Regions from separate parts of the Homo sapiens genome. Here region 1 is linked to region 2. The links come from fine-mapping of genetic effects on gene expression. Tissue or cell type: neutrophils. Region 2 holds a variant in brackets; the other region holds the start of a gene. All regions are shown on one strand. Distances are between the middles of the regions.

Region 1 (10,030 bases), 240 kb after region 2:
TTAGTGTTAGTGTATTTTATGTGTGGCCCAAGACAATTCTTCTTCCAATATGGGCCCAGGGAAGCTGAAAGATTGGACACCCTGATATAAAGATATGTACACAGCAATGTTGCTGATAATGGCCCAAACTAGAAACCACACTATCATCAATTTAAGAAAGGCTCAGGCCGGGCTCGGTGGCTCATGCTTGTAATTCCAGCACTTTGGGAGGCCGAGGCGGGTGGCTCACCTGAGGTCAGGAGTTTGAGACCAGCCTGGCCAACATGGTGAAACCCTGTCTCTACTAAAAATACAAAAAATTATCTGGGCGTGAGGCAAGAGAATCACTTGAACCCAGGAGGCGGAGCTTGCAGTGAGCCGATTTTGTGCCATTGCACTCCAGCCTGAGTGACAGAGTAAGACTCTGTCTCAAAAAAAAAGGCCCAATAAATTTAGTAAATTCATATTACGGAATAAAACAATGAGGCTGCTCATTCTCTAAGATATGGTGTCTTAGATCTCTAAGACATCTGAGATACAGTGTTGAGTGAAGAAGGTAAATTATAAAACAGTAAGTATATAGAGTATGAAACCATTTATTCCGACGCACACACTCATACACCAAAAACAATACTATATATTCTGTGTGTGTGTGTGTGTGTGTGTGTAAGAAAAGGGTTTTAAAGCGGACAACTAACTGATTCTGAGGTTAGGGCAAAAAGATTGGGGCTGTGAGTTGGTATGGTAAGAAAAAAATATATTTTAAAAAATATATATTTTTAAAAGAGGGTTATCTAATTAAAAGTACTAAAGCAAAATTCTATATTAAAACTAATGGAAAAAAAGAAGTGTTGCCTTTTAGGGGCTCTTTCTGGTAACTGATATCACCTCTCTCATTCTCTGCCATCTCTCATCTCCTGGTCTCTCTTGCTTATCAAGAGAAGACTATGTCACTTGGATCCCAGCTTTTCCCTGCCTCAGCTGAGGCCACTATCCTCGTTGACTCCCATGGTGACATGGATGCCTCATCAATATTGTGGGTTTGAGTCCTCATCTGCAGGGTCCTTGAGATCTCCTTGGCATCCACTCCCATTTCCTATCTGGGACTTCATTATCACCAGCATCTACTCCACCTCCAAAACCACTGGTGGAAGCAGCGTCCTCTCTTCCCATGTTACTTGCTCAACAACTCCCACAAGTACTACTCTTTGAATATTTTGGGGGGGTCTTTGATTCTTTCCTCAGCTGCCTGTTGATTAGATCTCTTCTGTCTTCACTTGCCTCCTGATCCCATTTTGCCAACACTCTCAACTCCCTTGTACCACTCTCTAGCAAAATATCACTTTTGGATGAACTCACTTTTGGTTTGCTCTCACCGTGAAATCACACACAATTGCACCACAATAAACTTCATGGTCACCAACCTCAACAGGGTGCTTAGTATTGCTCACAAAACTCTCTCTGTTTCTCTCGGACCTTGAACATGCACCAGTCCTACTTACTCACCAATCCTCACTATAACTCATCTCCTCAAATATATCTGCCCACCTCACTGTTCGTCAGCACGCTATGTTCACTGTCACCTCCGCAAGGTAGTGTCTGCCTTGGCCAGGTCCTCTTGGCAAGCTGGTGTATCCATTCCCCCAGTTGCTTCAGGTATTTGCCACTAACGGCTCAAAGCTTCCCCCTTCTCTGAAGGATTGGCCCTGGCCTATGCCATGCAGGGGCAAAGCAGGGTTGTTAAGCCTTGTCTCAAATCATGACAACCTTGAGTTGTCACTAATGCTCCAGAGCTCCCCAGGAGATGGGGCTGAGGTGGACTCTGGCTGAGGCCACATCTTGCTGAGCTCCTTCCCCTCCATATTCTGCTCATTCACCTTCTGATGTGTTTCTCCTGAGAGCACTCCTTCAACAGGTCAATTGCATAGAATCCCTGTCTTGGGCTCTGCTTCTAGGGCAGTTGATCTGAAACAGTAGCTTTGCTTACATTTCCATTTTCCCTGAGTGTAATCACTTCTCCTCTGTAATTCTGTTTATCCTTTCAATCACAGATCAAATTCTCCCAAGAAGCTTTTTCAGACGTTAATTTTCAAGGAATTGTCATTGGTTATATTACTCTTTTGATTGTTCATGGTTTCAGAAAAAGATCCAGTAGGCCTAATACACCAGAAATTCTGAAACTTTTGTGTGCAGCGGACCTCTTTGGAAGGCTGGTGAAGCCTGTGGAACCTTTCTTAGAAGAGGCTTTTAGGCCGGGTGCAGTGGCTCATGCCTGTAATCCCAGCACTTTGGGAGGCCGAGGCGGGTGGATCACGAGGTCAAGAGATCGAGACTATCCTGGCTAACACGGTGAAACCCTGTCTCTACTAAAAATACAAAAAGATTAGCTGGGCGTGGTGGCGGGCGCCTGTAGTCCCAGCTACTCCGGAGGCTGAGGCAGGAGAATGGTGTGAACCCGGGAGGTGGAGCTTGCACTCAGCTGAGATCGCCCACTGCTCTTCAGCCTGGGCAACAGAGCGACTCTGTCTCCAAAAAAAAAAAAAAAAAGAGACTTTTAAGTATATAAAATAAATAGAATTACAAGACAAATATGATTAAGACAAGCCTGGGCGACATAGCAAGACCTCATGTCTACAAAATATTTAAAAATTAGCTAGGCATGGTGGCGCATGCCTGTAGTCCCAGCTACTTGGGAGGCTGAGGTGGGAGGATCACCTGAGCCCAGGAGTTTGAGGTTACAGTGAGCCGTGATCACACCCTAGCCTGGGGAACAGACTGAAACCATCTCTCTAAAAGGAGAAAAGGAATAAAAGCTACCTTGTAACATACTACTATGTTTGCTGCTTTATTAATTCATTAAATAACACAATCTAGCATTGGGTCAAATAATGTAAAAATAGGATTAAAGTAAGTGATATTTTGAGAGATCTACTACAACTAAAATGTGGTATGAAAATATCTATACTTTTTATGATTGACAAAGTCAAGAGTACTACAGGCAGCACTGTAATCTGTGACCTGCATTCATAATGAAAGGAAATGCTAAACTTCAGTTAGAGGTTAGTGAGAATAAAGATGTGATTTTTGGTTTTTCCCCCATCCAGGTTCACAGTGCTGATTCCTATTCATGGACACCTAGGGGGTTCTGTAGATCCCAAGTCAGGACTCCTGTGCTGGAGGATTTGCAGGCCTGGGAAGCAGACATTCAAGTCACTCAGCTTCACACTGAACACTCAAGTGTAGGCAGCTCATCCATCATTATAGCCTCTTGTGCTAAGCAGAGGAGACTCCACAACAGTTAGAAGAGAACAAGATGGTATAACCTCCCTCCCATCCCCCAGGAGATAGGTTAAGAAACTTTTCAAAGGTCCTGACAGGATTTCTCCATTATCAGGCAGTATTGGTCAAAGATGCCCTCATGGGGACTTGAAGGCCAGGAGAGCTTGCTGAGTTCATGGGGAGAACACAGTGGCCTTCAGACAATAATGGTCTCATCTCCTTGGCCTGTGTCCACTGGTAACCTCCATCAGTTCCTTTCACCCTGGTGATGGCCACTTAGTGTTTTATCAGTTAGCAGATATTTTTTGAGTGTTAGGTGGGGAACAAGTCTGTGCAGAATTTAGGGATGGAAATGATGTAGTCACCCTCAAGAAAATTAGATTATTATCAGAGATTGGATTAAGATGGTACATCTCTCTTCTTTCTTATCCCACATTTCCTGACGTAACAGAAAATGTAGTTTTTTAAAAAGAGTAAATTTGGCGGGGTGCGGTGGCTCATGCCTGTAATCCCAGCACTTTGGGAGGCTGAGGGTGGCAGATCACCTGAGGTCAGGAGCTCAAGACCAGCCTGGCCAACATGGTGAAACCCTGTCTCTAATAAAAATACAAAAATTAGCCGGGTGTGGTGGCGCGTGCCTGTAATCCCAGCTACCAGGGAGGCGGAGGCAGGAAAATCGCTTGAACCCGGGAGGCAGAGGTTATAAATCTTCCATTTTTTTCTTAGTCAGAAGGAGAAATATTTGGAGAAGAAAAATAGTGACGAATATTAATAGTGATGTGGAAGCTGGGACGAGGGAGTCTATGGGAGCAAGACGGTGGTGCTCTCTGGTTTTGGTTGGTTTCATGGGATATATGAATGGAAATAGAGGAGTGTGTTATACTAATATTATATTAGCTATAATAACAGCTCTATATTTACCCAGTACTTTTCATTTGTTCAAAACTCTTACACATTACCTAGTTTAATCTTCTCATCCTACTACTATATAGGAGAATGTCGCACCTAAAGGATTGCAGAGGAGGCACAAAGCCTATGCATATTCCCCAAGAATAGAAGCACTGGGAATGCCTTTGCGTTGCCACCTTTTTGGCTGGTTGAGGTATATACGAAGGAGGAACTTATCACAGAGAACCTAGCTAGTGGTTCTTAAATTTCAGTGTGTATTAACGGGGAGCCTGTTAGAGATATATTTTCTGGGCCCCCATCACTGAGATTTGGATTCAGCAAATGAAGTATGACTCACAAGCCTGCACTTTTAACAAGAGCTCTGGTCCATCTGGATAGGTGATCCAAAACCATACTTCCAGAAGAGCGGGTGAGGCAAATCTTCCTGTACCAGTTTGTCTTTAGGTGTGTCAATTGTACACACCTAAAATCGTGACTGGAGGCCGGGCTTGGTGGCTCACGCCTGTAATCCCAGCACTTTGGGAGGCCGAGGCGGGCGGATCACGACGTCAGGAGATCGAGACCACGGTGAAACCCCGTCTCCACTAAAAATACAAAAAAAAAAAAAAAAAAAAAAAAAAATTAGCCAGGTGTGATGGCGGGCGCTACTCGGGAGGCTGAGGCAGGAGAATGGGGTGAACCCAGGAGGCGGAGCTTGCAGTGAGCCGAGATCGCACCACCGCACTCCAGCCTGGGCGACAGAGCGAGACTCTGTCTCAAAAAAAAAAAAAAAAAAATCGTGACTGTAATTGTTTTGAGACGGGTCTCGCCCCGTCTCCCAGGCTGGAGTGCAGTGGTGCCATCACGGCTCACTACGGCTTCCACCTCCCGGGCTTAAGTGATCCTCCCACCTCAGCCTCCTAAGTAGCTGGGACTACAGGTGTGTCACCACGCCTGGCTAATTTTTAAATTTTTTGTAGAGTCGAGGTCTCCCTATGTTGTCCAGGCTTTTTTTAGTTTTTATGATTGTTACTTTAAGGATCAGTCTGAAATTCCCTTTAGTCACACTTACACGCTTGAACTCATTTCTGACACTAGTTATGGGCCTGTCCTGGGGAGTTCAAGTCCGGGACACACTATTAGGGAAATAACTGTCAGAGCAAAGAACAAAACCCTGTAAGAAAAAACTACGAGGCGACGGGTAATACAGAGGTCCTGGGCACTCTCGGAGACTGGCGGAGAAACCCGACACACACCTCCCATGTCTGTACTGTATTCCTCGAGAGCCTGACATACAGGTATTCAGTGAGTACTGGTTAAAAGAATAACAAACGCATTGACACACAAATTTTAACAGCTTCCCAAGGATTTTCTCTCAATCGCTTGTTAAGCTCAGGTCCTCGTCTGATAAACATGACGCTACATTTTTCCCCCTAATGTTATTTTGAAGTTTCGACGTAGATTAAATATGGCGACTGAAAACAAAGCAAGAGACAAAGTGCTTGCGCATCCCATGACCTCCCCACCGGCAAGGAAAAGGAGAAACAGGCGTGAGCAAGCAGTGCTGGTTGGCGCAGAGAGAGAAATACCAGGAACTCAGTACAGGCCGGAAGTCGGGGTACGGGGCCGCGCCAGCTTCAGGCGTCACTTCCCACGCGACTTCCTGCGGGAAACATGGCGGCATTGAGCGGAGTCCGCTGGCTGACCCGAGTGAGGCCCCGGGACATGTCGGGCAGGGGCGGGCGAAGGAGCGGAGAGTTTGTCCTAGGGTTTCCTAAACAGGGCAAAGTCAACTGTAGTGTTCGGGGTCTGGATGTCTCAAAGCTGACCTTACAGGCTTGTGTGTCCCTGTTGCAGGCGCTGGTCTCCGCCGGGAACCCTGGGGCATGGAGAGGTCTGAGTACCTCGGCCGCGGCGCACGCTGCATCGCGGAGCCAGGTATGCACGAATCTGGCTGGGGTCTCTCTTACGACCCTGTCCCTTCCTCGCTGCTCCCTCCCCTGGCTTTTCCCCACCCCTCCCGGGTCTCCCTACTTCTCTACTCCCAGGATCCGTGCTCCCGCCCCAGCTCTATCTTTACTTCTCCCCTCTTCCCCCAATTGAGGCCGAGGACGTGAGGGTGGAGGGCTCCTTTCCCGTGACCATGCTTCCGGGAGACGGTGTGGGGCCTGAGCTGATGCACGCCGTCAAGGAGGTGTTCAAGGTGAGTGGCCTCGGGGATCAGACAGTAGAGGACAGTAGTGTGTTGGAAAGGACTTGGCCTTGACTGTGATGTTTTGGGAACCTGTCTCTGAAGGCTGCCGCTGTCCCAGTGGAGTTCCAGGAGCACCACCTGAGTGAGGTGCAGAATATGGCATCTGAGGAGAAGCTGGAGCAGGTGCTGAGTTCCATGAAGGAGAACAAAGTGGCCATCATTGGTATGTGTGCCCTCTTGCCACTTGTCCATGTGCCATTTAAAATCAAATGACCAAATGTTTATTAAGCCCTTCTCCCCACATGCTATGCAATTATATTAACTCCAGGGCAACCACCATTGGTATTTGGACATTTGTTCCTTCCCATTGGGAGCCCAGGAGTTGAGAGATCATGTCAGCTGTCTATGCAGAAAAGTTCCAGGGGTTCTGAGTCTGTCCTGAGGCTACATCAACTGTCATCAAATCTTATTCATTGCATTTCTGGAATACCACTTTTAGCTGCCCCTTTTCTTTTTTTTTTTTTCCCCTCCCTTCCTTCCTCTTTGTTTCTTCTTGCTCTGTCGCCCAGGCTGGAGTGCAGTGGCGCGATCTCGGCTCACTGCAACCTCCCCGTCCCTGGTTCAAGCAATTCTCCTGCCTCAGCCTCCTGAGTAGCTGCGACTACAGGTGTGCACCACCACACCCAGCTAATTTTTGTGTTTGTTTTGTTTTAAGACAGAGTCTCGCTCTGTCGCCCAGGCTGGAGTGCAATGTTGCCATCTCAGCTCACTGCAACCTCTGCCTCCCGGGTTCAAGTGATTCTCCTGCCTCAGCCTCCTGAGTAGCTGGCTGGTATTACAGGAGCGTGCCACCATGCCTGGCTAATTTTTGTATTTTTAGTAGAGATGGGGTTTCACCATGTTGGTCAGGCTGGTCTCGAACTCCTGACCTTGTGATCTGCCCGCCTTGGCCTCCCACAGTGCTGGGATTACAAGTGTGAGCCACCATGCCCAGGCTAATTTTTGTATTTTTAGTAGAGAGAGGGTTTTACCATGTTGGCCAGGCTGGTCTCGAACTCTTGACCTCAAGTGATCCACCCACCTCTGCATCCCAAACTGCTGCGATTATAGGCGTGAGCCACCGTGCCTAGCTGCCCCTTTTCTTTTGTCTTCCGCGCTTTAATCTCCTCATTTGATTTTTTTGGCTTCTAGTTCTGCCCCTATAGTTCATCTTCCATATCTCTTCTTGGAAAGAACAGCCTGATTTTCCAGGCCCAGCCTTACCATAGGAAAGTCAGTACTTTATAAGTTGGCCCTTAATTTTCTGCCTTGGTTCCACAACTCTTGTTCTGTGCTTCAATCACACTAGATTGTGTGTTAGATTCCAAATATGTACTACCTGACTTATATTGTTCCCTCCACCCAGAACGTTCTTTCTTTGGTGCTACCTGTTAGAGTCCTTCTCACTCATTCACTGTATTAGTTTCCCATAGCTGCCGTAACACACTACCATGAACCTGGTGGCTTATCATTAACAGAAATGTATTCTCTCACAGTGCTGGAGGCCATCAGTCTGAAATTAAGGTGTTGGCAGGGCCCTGCTCCCTCTGAAGGTTTAGGGGAGAAACCTTTCTTGCCTCTTCTGGTGGCTCTTGCTGTTTTTTGACTTGTAGATGCATCACTCCAATATCTGTGGTTTTCTTCCCTCTCTGTCTCGGTATCATTTTTCTCCTCAAATATTTAGCCCTGGATGGGACGATTTTTTCTCAAGATCCTTAACTTAATTACATCTGCAAAGCCTCTTTTCCCAAATAAGGTCACATACATAGGTTCTGGGGCTCAAGGCATGGCTGAAGTGCCAGCTCTTCTGTGCTGTATCCTGATATTACTGGAGAGGATTTCCTCTTTGTGTTGCTATGCAAGTTTCCCATGGTACTTATCATGTCTTTCATATTTTCTGTCTTTCCCAGTGTACCGTTTGCTTCTCAAGGGCAGGAGTTGTATGGTTTTAGTTGTTATCCTTATTGCCTGACATATAATTGATATTCATCAGTAGGTGTTGGGTTAAAAAATGTCAAATAAGGAGAAGGCACAGATAAAAAGATCACAGATCTGCTAGCATTGTTTTTCAACTTGTTGTTAAACCCAGGCTCTTTTTTGATAAATAGAAAAAATCTGTTCTCCGTTTTGAAGTTTCAACATAAATTAAATATGTTGACTAAAAATAAAGCATTAAGGCCGGGGCGGGTGGATCACTTGAGGTCAGGAGTTTGAGACCAGCCTGGCCAACATGGTGAGACACTGCCTCTACTAAAAATACAAAAAATTAGCCAGGTGTGGTGGCACATGCCTGTAATCCCAGCTACTGGGGAGGCTGAGGCAGGAGAATTGCTTGAACCTGGGAGGCAGAGGTTGCAGTGAGCCCAGGTCGTGCCACTGCACTCCAGCCTGGGCGACAGAGTGAGACCCTGTGTCTCTCACACACGCACACACACACACACACACACACACAGAAAATGCAATAGATGAAATGTTTCTGGCTTTAACTACATTATTCTCTTTTGTCCCTTGCCCCCAGAGACAATTTAAAAGTTTACTGATGTGGGAATGGGAGATGGGAGTCTGGGTTACATGATGTTCCTAAGGGGGTTAGACACTGGTCTGAGTTCCCTTGGGCTTGGCCTGTGGCTGACACTCCTTTTCCCACTTTGTTTTCACAGGAAAGATTCATACCCCGATGGAGTATAAGGGGGAGCTAGCCTCCTATGATATGCGGCTGAGGTAGGTGGTCTGGGTGGGGTGAATGGTTGAGAGGTGCCAGGGCACCAGGAGCAGAGCTGATGGCCCTGCCCACCCTCAGGCGTAAGTTGGACTTATTTGCCAACGTAGTCCATGTGAAGTCACTTCCTGGGTATATGACTCGGCACAACAATCTAGACCTGGTGATCATTCGAGAGCAGACAGAAGGGGAGTACAGCTCTCTGGAACATGAGGTGAGGCCCCAGAAACTGGGGGAGGGCAAGGATGAAGATGGGAGAGAGGTGGAGCTCCTTGTTTCCCTTCCCAGTGTCACCTAGCTGCTGCTTTCTTCTTACCCAGAGTGCAAGGGGTGTGATTGAGTGTTTGAAGATTGTCACACGAGCCAAGTCTCAGCGGATTGCAAAGTTCGCCTTTGACTATGCCACCAAGAAGGGGCGGGGCAAGGTCACTGCTGTCCACAAGGCCAACATCATGTGAGGGGCATGGCTTTGTGTAGGATGGGTTCCTGGGAAGGTAGCCCCTGTACTTTCTTGGCTGATTCTGTCCCCTTTGGCCCATGGACAGGAAACTTGGGGATGGGTTGTTCCTGCAGTGCTGTGAGGAAGTTGCTGAACTGTACCCCAAAATCAAATTTGAGACAATGATCATAGACAACTGCTGCATGCAGGTGAGGCCTCCCCACATCTCTACTCATGGGGCGGAGGAGGAGGGTGGGGAGTGGAATTTACTTCATGCCTGCATCTCACCCTCTAGCTGGTGCAGAATCCTTACCAGTTTGATGTGCTTGTGATGCCCAATCTCTATGGGAACATTATTGACAATCTGGCTGCTGGCCTGGTTGGGGGAGCTGGTGTGGTCCCTGGTGAGAGCTATAGTGCAGAATACGCAGTCTTTGAGACGGTGAGGCTGCTTTCTCCCTCGGCCCTTCCTCTGACCTCAAGTCCGCCATTC
Region 2 (10,030 bases):
CCAGCTTGACAGGGTTTCCACTGACCAAATCTGGGACAAACTCAGCATCAAAGTACCAAAGTACACTAATAGATAACTTATTGAATAAAATATGAATCCGTAAGTCCATATTGATATAAGTTAAATAAATGGGAAGAAAACAGTTTTTCCTTTCAATGAAATGTCAATGAATGGATGTAGAAGGGATGATGAAATTAGAAAATCATCATTTGGCAGCCATCATACCAATAATCCAGCAAAAAAATTTCAATGGGTGCTAAAACTAGAAGGTGAAAGTTTGATGAGGAATGGGATACTTACATTGTCTCAAAGTACCTCCTCCTCCTCCTCATAAAATACTGATTATAAAGGAAAAAATAGTTAAATGTATGGTAGAGAAAACTGGCAGACACAATCTTAATCAAGTGACCAAGGTTAACATCAAGAAAAATGGGACACATGGAAATTATGTAGTACCTGGATGGATAAAATAAGAACACAGCACAATTTATGTGGCAATTCTGATAAAATGCATAATCTGAATCTAAAGATGAAGAAACATCAGGTCCATGTTAATGACTTCCTCAAAATAATGAGCCTGTAATCTTCAAAAGTGTCAAGGCGATCAAGTCAAAGACAGACATGACAACTAAATGCAATGTGTGATTTTAAACTGGATCCTTCACCTTTTGGGGACAACTAGAATAACTCGAATGGGGCCTGAAGATAAGCTGGTAGTACTGTACTGGTATTAAACTCCAGATTTATTTTATTTTATTTTTGGAGACAGGGTCTCACTCTGTCACCCAGGCTGGAATGCAGTGACACAATCTCAGCTCACTGCAACCTCCGCCTCCTAGGTTCAAGTGATTCTCATGCCTCAGCCTCCTGAGTAGCTGGGATTACAGGTGTGCACCACCAAGCTCGGCTCATTTTTTTGTATTTTTAGTGGAGACAGGTTTTCATCATGTTGGCCAAGCTGGTCTCAAACTCCTGACCTCAAATGATCTGCCCACCTCGTCATCCTAAAGTGCTGGGATTACAGGCGTGAGCCACCGTGCCCGGCCAAACTCCAGATTTAATGCTCATTAAAGTATTTGGGGCTGATGGGGCTCACTCTCTAATGGTTCAGGGAGCGAAAAGACTCTGTAACTATTCTTGCAATTTTTCTGTACATGTATTTATTTCAAAATAAAAAACAAAATGCAATTACGACAAAAAAAGTGCACACTAATGTCCCAGTATTATAAAAATCTAATTCTTCCTTAGTAAAATTTCTGGATAGTCAAAGTACCCCATTACCCCTACTTATTTTTACTAGCTTTTCTAATGAAAGTGTATCTCATTTTCATAGCATTCTGCAATAGAACTTTTGTGATGTTGGAAATGTTCTAAATACGTGCTGTCCAACACAGTAGCACACATGGCTAATGGCTATCATTTTGGACAGTGTAGGTCTAGAGAATAGCAGTTTGGTCACGAAAAATTAAAGAGCTTTTTCATAAAACATTAGGGTTTTTTGTCGTTGTCTGTTTTTGAGACAGGGTCTCACTCTGTCACCCAGGCTGGAGTGCAGAGGTGCGATCTCAGCTCACTTCAACCTCCACCTCCTGGACTTAAGTGATCCTCCTGCCTCAGCCTGCAAAGGAGCTGGGACTACGGGCGTGAGCCACCATGCCCAGCTAATTTTTGTATTTTTTGTAGAGACGGAGTTTCGCCACGTTGCCCAGGCTGGTCTTGAACTCCTGAGCTCAAGCAATCCACTTGCCTCGGCCTCCCAAAGTGCTAGGATAATTAATAGGCGTGAGCCACCATGCCCGGCCAAACATTAGTTTTAATACCAAACAGATTTTAACACAAATTAAATTACTTCAGTTTTTCTATACTTCTGTATATTTTCAAAATTTGTTTTTTGAGATAGGGTCTTACTCTGTCACCCAGGCTGGAGTGCAATGGTGTGATCTCGGCTCACTGTAGCCTCAACCTCCCAGGCTCAAGTGATTCTCTCACTTCAGCCTCCTGAGTAGCTGGGAATACAGACATGTGCCTCTACACCCTGCTAATTAATTTTGGTATTTTTTGTGGAGATGGGGTTTCACCAGGTTGCCCAGGCTTGTCTCGAACTCCTGGGCTCAAGTGATCTGCCCACCATGACCTCCCAAAGTACTGGGATTATAGGCCTGAGTCCCCATGCCCGGCCTTCTAATTTCTTAATCGAATCTGAATACCTACCTATTAGAAGCAACCATCTATCTTTAGTTTGAGAGCAGTCTTTTTTTTTCACTGACTTCCGTTTTAGTATACGATTTCCACTGATTGATATCCATGTCTTCTCTACTTCTTGAAATATGCTTTCCTAAAATCTAGGGGGCATGTACGTATCTACCCATACTCCCACCCTGCTCTTACATAGTTAGATCCCATAGTCACTTTCTCTCATATTTACTATTTATATTTTACTTTTATTCCCTCTCAGAGCTGCTACAGTGTATTTAATTGGTGCTACAAATTTATTTCCAGCCATGCTCAGCATAATATCCTCCTGATCAGATCAGACTATTTCAGGGCAAACACATTATTCCTTTTCCACATGAAATAAACCTATTTATTATATAATCATTCCAATATTTTAAGCCAAGAACTAAAAGTCAAAGACTAGTTTAATGACATCATCAACATAGACTAGCAGAGAAGAATGACAGCATGCTTCACATAGTTCATCAAAACAGGAATTTCAAATTCTACAACTCTTGATTTGAATACAAATGCAAAGGATTCTCATCTCTTATCATTCAGCTTAGTAACTTCAGTGAATGCAGTATCAGTGTGACTCACCTACCAGGTTCTGTTACTGTTCACTCAGAGCAAGAAAAAAATTGGTTTGTATACAACAGGCCCATGAAGTTAACACCTATGCCAAACATCATTAGAAACACTTAACAAAACTAGGAAAATCTGGAATCCTACCAAAAGCAGAACTATTTTAAGGAAGAGTTTGATCTAGAAGATTTATCCACCCCTTGCTTCTATTAATAAATATTTAAAACAACAAAAATAAAAATAAAAGCAACTAAAAATTCCTAACATCAAAATTATTTATAAGATAGCCAGGCAAAGTGGCTCATACCTGTAATACCAACATTTTGGGAAGCCGAGGCAGGAGCACTGTTTGACCCCAGGAGATTGAGACCAGCCTGGGCAACACAGTGAGACCACATCTCTACAAAAAAAAAAAAAAAAGTTAAAATAAAAAGTAGGCCGGGTGCGGTGGCTCACACCTGTGATCCCAGCACTTTGGGAGGCCAAGGCAGGTGGATCATGAGGTCCGGAGATCGAGACCATCCTGGCTAACACAGTGAAACCCCGTCTCTACTAAAAATACAAAAAATTAGCTGGACGTGTGGTGGGTGCCTGTAGTCCCAGCTACTTGGGAGGCTGAGGCAGGAGAATGGTGTGAACCCGGGAGGCGGAGCTTGCAGTGAGCCGAGATCATGTCACTGCACTCCAGCCTGGGTGACAGCGAGACTCCGTCTTAAAAAAAAAAAAAAAATTAAAAAAAACAAAAAAAAAACAAAAAAAAAACTAGCTGGGCATGATAGCACACACCTGTAGTCCCAGCCACTCCATTCCAGCCTGGGTGACAGAGCAAGATCCAGTCTAAAAAAAAAAAAAAAAAAAAAGTATATATAAAAATTATATATAATATATACTTTACTTATATATAATATACATTTTATATATTATATAATATACAAAATATATTATATATAAAATATATAATATACAAAATATATTATATATAAAATATATAATATACAAAATATATTATATATAAAATATATATTATAATATATAAAATATATAATACATATTATATATAATGCATACCCTCCACTGTGCCTTATATATATATTATATATAATATACAATACATATTATATATCATATACAATATAGTATATATATCATATATCATATATACTATACGTCATATTATATATGACGTATAGTATATATGATGTTATATATCATATATACTATACATCATATATTATATATATGTTATATATCATATATACTATACATCATATATATTATATATGATATGATATATATTATATATGATATGATATATGATAGATTATATATGATATATGATAGATTATATATATGATATATGATAGATTATATATATATCATATATTATAATATATAATTACACATATTATATATAACAATATATAACATATATATGTCATATATTATATATTATAATTAATATATTTTAATTATATTAT[A/C]TAATATATATTATCTTATATTATATATATTATCTAATATATATTATCTTATATTATATATATTATCTAATATATATTATATTATCTTATAATATATATTATATATTATGTAATATATAATATATAATTTATATATAAGTGAAACGGAAAAATTATATGAAATTCAAACTTCTGCATCCATAAATAAGAAAGAATGTAGCTGCACTCATTCATTTACTATTGTCTGTGGCTGGCTTCAGACAATCTTTTGTAGTTTTCGTTTGTTTTGTTTTGGTTTTTTTTGGAGATGGAGTCTCACTCTCATCCAGGCTGGAGTGCAGTGGCATGATCTTGGCTCACTGCAACCTCCGCCTCCTGGGTTGAAGCAATTCTCCTGCCTCAGCCTCCCGAGTAGCTGGGATTATAGGTGTGAGCCACCACACCAACTAATTTCTGTATTTTTAGTAGAGACGTGGTTTCGCCATGTTGGCCCAGCTGGTCTCAAACTCCTGACCTCAGCCTCAGCCTCCCAAAGTGCTGGGATTTACAAGCATGAGCCACCGCACCAGGCCTGTTTTGTTTTGTTTTGTTTTTTGAGACAGGATTTCGCTCCATCACTCAGGCTAGAGTGCAGTGGTGCAATCACAGCTAACTGCAACCTCGACCTCCCAGACTCAAGGGATCTTCCCTCTCAATCTTTTGAAGGTTAAATAATGTACATTATACAGTCTGACACAGTGCCTTACACATAACTACTTAATAAATGGTACTTACATGTTATTATTCTGATCCTTGTTGAACTGCTTTTTGATGTGTTCTGGTTATCCATAATTGGTAATCAGCCACTGTACTGACTGGCAGAGTGGAGTGGCTTATATAGCTTTCCACTGCTGCTCAGTATCCCACAAATCACAGTCACAAAGTTATAACTCAACAGCATGTTTGGTGCCACACATGCATATTGTCATACTGTGACATTTTATTTTTTATTAATGCATAACTGTTATCAGTAACTAAAAGTCGTTATTATTTTGACATTTTATTAGTACATAACTATCATTAGTTATTAGTGCATAACCATCATGTCGAAACAAAAACAAATGCACTTTGAATGTCATGTTTTTCATTTTTTTTAATTTTGTATTTTTTTAAAACTAGAGATGGACTCTCACTATGTTGCCAAGGCTGGTCTTGAACTCCTGGGCTCAAGCAATCCTCCCACCCTGGCCTCCAAAAGTGCTGGGATTACAAGTGTGAGCCACCACACCCAGCCTGAATGTCATGCTTTTAAGGCACAGTGGAGGGTATGCATTATTTTATCAAGACAAGATAGGGAAGCATTTTGTTTATTATGCAATGACTCTACGGTCATCCCTTGGTATCTGTGGATCAACCGTGGATACCAAAATCTATGCACACTCAAGTCCCACAGTGGCCCAGAGGATACAAAAATTTCACTGTTCTGTATCTGGGGGTTTCCTCAAATAACGTATTTTTGATCCACGTTTGGTTGTATATGTATAAACTGCTGATTGTATTTATTGAAAAAAAATTCTCATATAATTGGACCTGTGCAGTTTGAAACTGCGTTGTTCAAGGAGTCAACTGTCTGTCTGTGCTAAAAGAATTCAAAATACATCAATGTTACCAAACTAAGGACCGATCACAGTATTTCCGATTCACAGGAAAGCAATGGTCAGAAAAATTTGAAAATTTAAAGTGGAATATTTCATTACAGCAAGGAGGGAAGGTAAGGAATAGAAAGTTTGTAAAGGAGGGAAGTTTCTAAGTAGCTCATTTGTTAGCAAAGCAAGAAAAGTAATATTCTAGTGATAAGTGAATTAAATCATGAAGAAGCTGAAGAAATGTATCCAGAGAAAATAAACTTGTTTAAGAGTATTAATTAGCCTTTCTCTAGGCTTTCTCCAGACAGGTAACAAAAAAATTATTTTTTAAATTTAATATAAGATAATTTAAAAAGAAAAAAAGACTATTAGCCTTTCAACAAAATCATTTGCTCTAAAAGTCGAAAATATTAGGAGCAAGATCAATAATCTGTTTAAAAAAAAAACCAAGGCAATTGAGGTTAAGTAGATTTCCATCTCTTTTGAATGAGTTTGATAGATGTTACAACACTGTTCAGATGTTTATTCAAGGAGTCAGTGCCAAGTTTAAAACAACTGAAGAATTAGCTTCTATGAATAGTCTGTGTTGAACAACTACAAACAAGAAGGTGAAAAAGTACTAATTCCATATAACCTAAAGTGGAATCTCAGATACGTTATCATTGATAATGGTAAAAATATGTGTGAAGCAGAAAAAGGCTTAGTTGGGTGATTTATAAAACGTGAAAATGTAAGGTGGTTATTCATGTTTTTTATCAATAGATATTCTATGAAAAATATCTGAATTTATCATGAATTATTAAACCAACCATGTTAATGGTGAATTTCATTCACTGCCATGGGCTTAACCATTGTCAGAAACAGAAGCTGAATAACCTGACTTGCCCAGGCACACAGCAGTTTGACGGCTGAGCTGTACTAAAGTTTTATCATGCTTTTTTTTTTTTCTTTTCAGCTTGGAACTGAGATTGAAATTTTTCACAACAATAAGACTGCTTTCAGACACTATGATCAAACAATAAATGGCTTTGAGAATTAGCTTTTGCTAATTTTATAATAGTAAATTCAACTTAAAATTACAGGACAGAACAACACTTATATATGAAACTTAAACTGTTGTTATTTAGACAACTAACTTTTGAATCATAAGCAACGTTGAGCTGCTTTATACACTTTACATGCTATCAAAAGTTAAAACAAGAAGTGAGATCTCCATTCCCAAACAAATTTGCAGTGGATATAGTTTCTTAGCTCACACTACATTTCCAGAATAATTTTTAGGACCTTAATGCACAAGGAAATATCTATATTTCAGTATCTATTTAACAGTGCAATTGTGGAGCTTCTGTCTAACCTTCCATTGGAAGTAATTAAGCAGCAATGAATAATATACTAAAAGGTAAATGTTATAAGAAAAACCTAATTCTATAAATGCTTCCTGAGTTATTAATATGCTCAATTAAAATCATATGTTTATGGGCTGGTATCAATTATTTGACATGTATGTGTGAAGACATGTCAAAGATGAAATATATAAAACCTCATTACAGACCTGCATTAATAGATAAATACTTGCAATCAATTTTGATGATTATTTATTGAATAGGAAGCACTAACTCTGAACTCCAATTAAGAAAATGTTATCACTCCGAAAAGAACTCCATTCTTCTCATTAGTATACCTGTATTTCAATAAATTGTGTTTATTATTTTGAATTTAATCAATTAAGAAATTTCTCAAAATTTGTTTTCTCTCTTGTTATATCAGAACGTACGTATTACCCTTGATTCTACTTCAGCCTGCAAAATCTAAAATATTTACTATCTGGCCCTTTATAGGAGGATCAGATAATTACTTCTTTGGAGAAAGGTTTTCTTCAGCCGAAGCATATAAAAGCTTGTCCTCTATCTCCTTCTGGGATTGGTAAAAACTTATCTAACACAAATAGGACTCAGGGCTGACTGGTTACATGAAAAAGTACAGTATATCAGGTAATTTTAAAAATGTAACTGAAATATTTGATTTTTACTCAAAACAAATACATGTCACCTGCCAATATTACGGTAAAAAACCAAGGCCTCTTCTTTAAGTACATTTCTACTAATTAATGTTTCAAATGTTCTCTCTTGCATATTCATTACAAATATATCATATCCATAACCCATCATATCCATAATCCACATTTGTGATTTCAAATTTCAGTTTCTTTAAATGGAACAAGAATCTAGGCAACTGTAAGACAACTGAGTATAGATCGTTTAAGAATTTTACGAGGTCAGGTGTGGTGGCTCACACCTGTAATACCAGCACTTTGGGAGGCCGAGGCGGGTGGATCACCTGAGGTCAGGAGTTCGAGACCAGCCTGACCAACATGGAGAAACTATGTCTCTACTAAAAATACAAAAAAGTAGCCAGGTGTGGTGGCGCATGCCTGTAATCCCAGCTATTCGGCAGGCTGAGACAGGAGAATCATTTGAACCCAGGAGGCAGAGGTTGTGGTGAGCTGAGACCACACCATTGCACTCTAGCCTGGGAAACAAGAGCAAAAAAAAAAAAAAAAAAAAAAAAGAATTTTATGATTTCCACCCCCAATCTTTCAAAATATTCACGCCCACAATTAGTAAGACAGTAATTTGGTGAAAAGGGGAAAAGGGGATTTGTATTTATCCAATTTGTTCAAGATCTACAACTTAATTTTCCTAAAAACAACTACTTTTTGCAGTCATATTTCATTAGTTAATGTTTAATTAAATTATAAAATTACAGTACTAAATGTAACTGGCATAAGCAGATTTGGAACAAACATACTGACCCCTGGAAGTGTAAAATTCAACTAGTGAGAGACGAAGGCAAGATGTGCTAGAGAGCAGCCAACCAGCCATGAGTGTTCAACTTTTCTTAGGAAACATTCAGTATATTCTAGAGGAAGAATAGAGTGTGGTTATTTCTGTAATTTGATTATATATACTCTATTATCAGCGGTCTCCAATCTTTTTGGCACCCAGGGACCAGTTTTGTGGAAGACAATTTTTCTATGAAATGGAGGGGTGGAGGATATGGTTTCAGATTTTGGGATGAAGCTGCAACACCTCAGATCATCAGGCATTAGATTCTCATAAGGAGCACACAACCTAGATCCCTGGAGTGTACAGTTCGCAGTAGGGTTTGTGCTCCTATGAAAATCTAATGCTGCTGCTGATCTGACAGGAGGCAGAGCTCAGGTGTAATGTTCCCTGGCCTAAAGTTCATATCCTGCTGTGTGGCCCAGTTCCTAACAGGATGGTCTGTGGCCTGGAGGTTGGGTATCCCTGCTCTATATAATTTGGTGATTATTTGAATATAGTCTAAATTAGAAATCTTTACGTATTTTTCCCCAAACAGCCCACTGTTACAGGATCATTCTTAGTAATCGATCATTTTCTCCCTGATTTCTGAATGCCACTTTCAACATATTCCTTTTTTCTTTCTTTTTTCATTTCACTCCTTCCTACACACTGACACTTTCATATTCTAAATTCCTATATATATTCAGGTCTGTTTCTGGACTATTTTTCTCTAGTTATTTGCCTATTCTTTTTTTTTTTTTTTTTTTGAGACGGAGTCTTGCTCTCTAGCCAGGCTAGAATGCAGTGGTGTGATCTCGGCTCACTGCAACTCTGCCTCCTGGGTTCAAGTGATTCTTCCAGCTCAGCCTCCCGAGTAGCTGGGACCGCAGGCATCCGCTACCATGCCCGGCTAATTTTTTGTATTTTAGTAGAGACGGAGTTTCACCATGTTGGCCAGGATGGTCTCGATCTCCTGACCTCACGATCCGCCCACCTCGGCCTCCCAAAGTGCTGGGATTATAGGCATGAGCCACCGCGCCTGGCCAGCATTTTATATCTTTAAAAAAATCCTTCAGTAAAGCTTCATAGTTTTCTTCAAATTAGTCTTGCCTATTTCTCGTTAATTTGCACTCTCTCTTCTCTATTTGTGCATCATTTAAAAATTTTAAAAATTCTGCTAGTGTAGCACTTAACATGAATTTAATTTTGTAAGAATACATAGACTGGGCGCCATGGCTCATAACTGTAATCCCAGCACTTTATAAGGCCAAAGCAAGATCACTTGAGCCCAGGAGTTCAAGACCAGCCGGGGCATCATAGAAAG

What was found. PIP is the estimated chance that this variant, and not a neighbour inherited with it, causes the effect.
Region 1: IDH3B starts here. The variant in region 2 is fine-mapped to the expression of IDH3B in neutrophils (CEDAR, PIP 0.95).

The regions. Positions count from the first base shown.
Region 1 is chr20:2,659,979-2,670,008 of GRCh38, reverse strand. IDH3B (isocitrate dehydrogenase (NAD(+)) 3 non-catalytic subunit beta) reads left to right here and starts at 5,793. Exons shown (of 12, transcript NM_006899.5): 1 at 5,793-5,856; 2 at 6,004-6,084; 3 at 6,251-6,349; 4 at 6,443-6,563; 5 at 9,040-9,100; 6 at 9,180-9,312; 7 at 9,419-9,552; 8 at 9,644-9,746; 9 at 9,833-9,979. The coding sequence starts at 5,821. IDH3B-DT (IDH3B divergent transcript) reads right to left here and starts at 5,735. Exons shown (of 3, transcript NR_186432.1): 1 at 5,403-5,735; 2 at 4,505-4,751; 3 at 556-2,501. RefSeq lists enhancers at 4,370-5,155, 6,729-7,516.
Region 2 is chr20:2,904,110-2,914,139 of GRCh38, reverse strand. All of the region lies in intron 1 of PTPRA (protein tyrosine phosphatase receptor type A), which reads right to left. Among named protein-coding and RNA genes, the nearest start is that of PTPRA, 36 kb to the right of the region's middle. The variant A/C (reference allele first, on the strand shown) is at 4,278.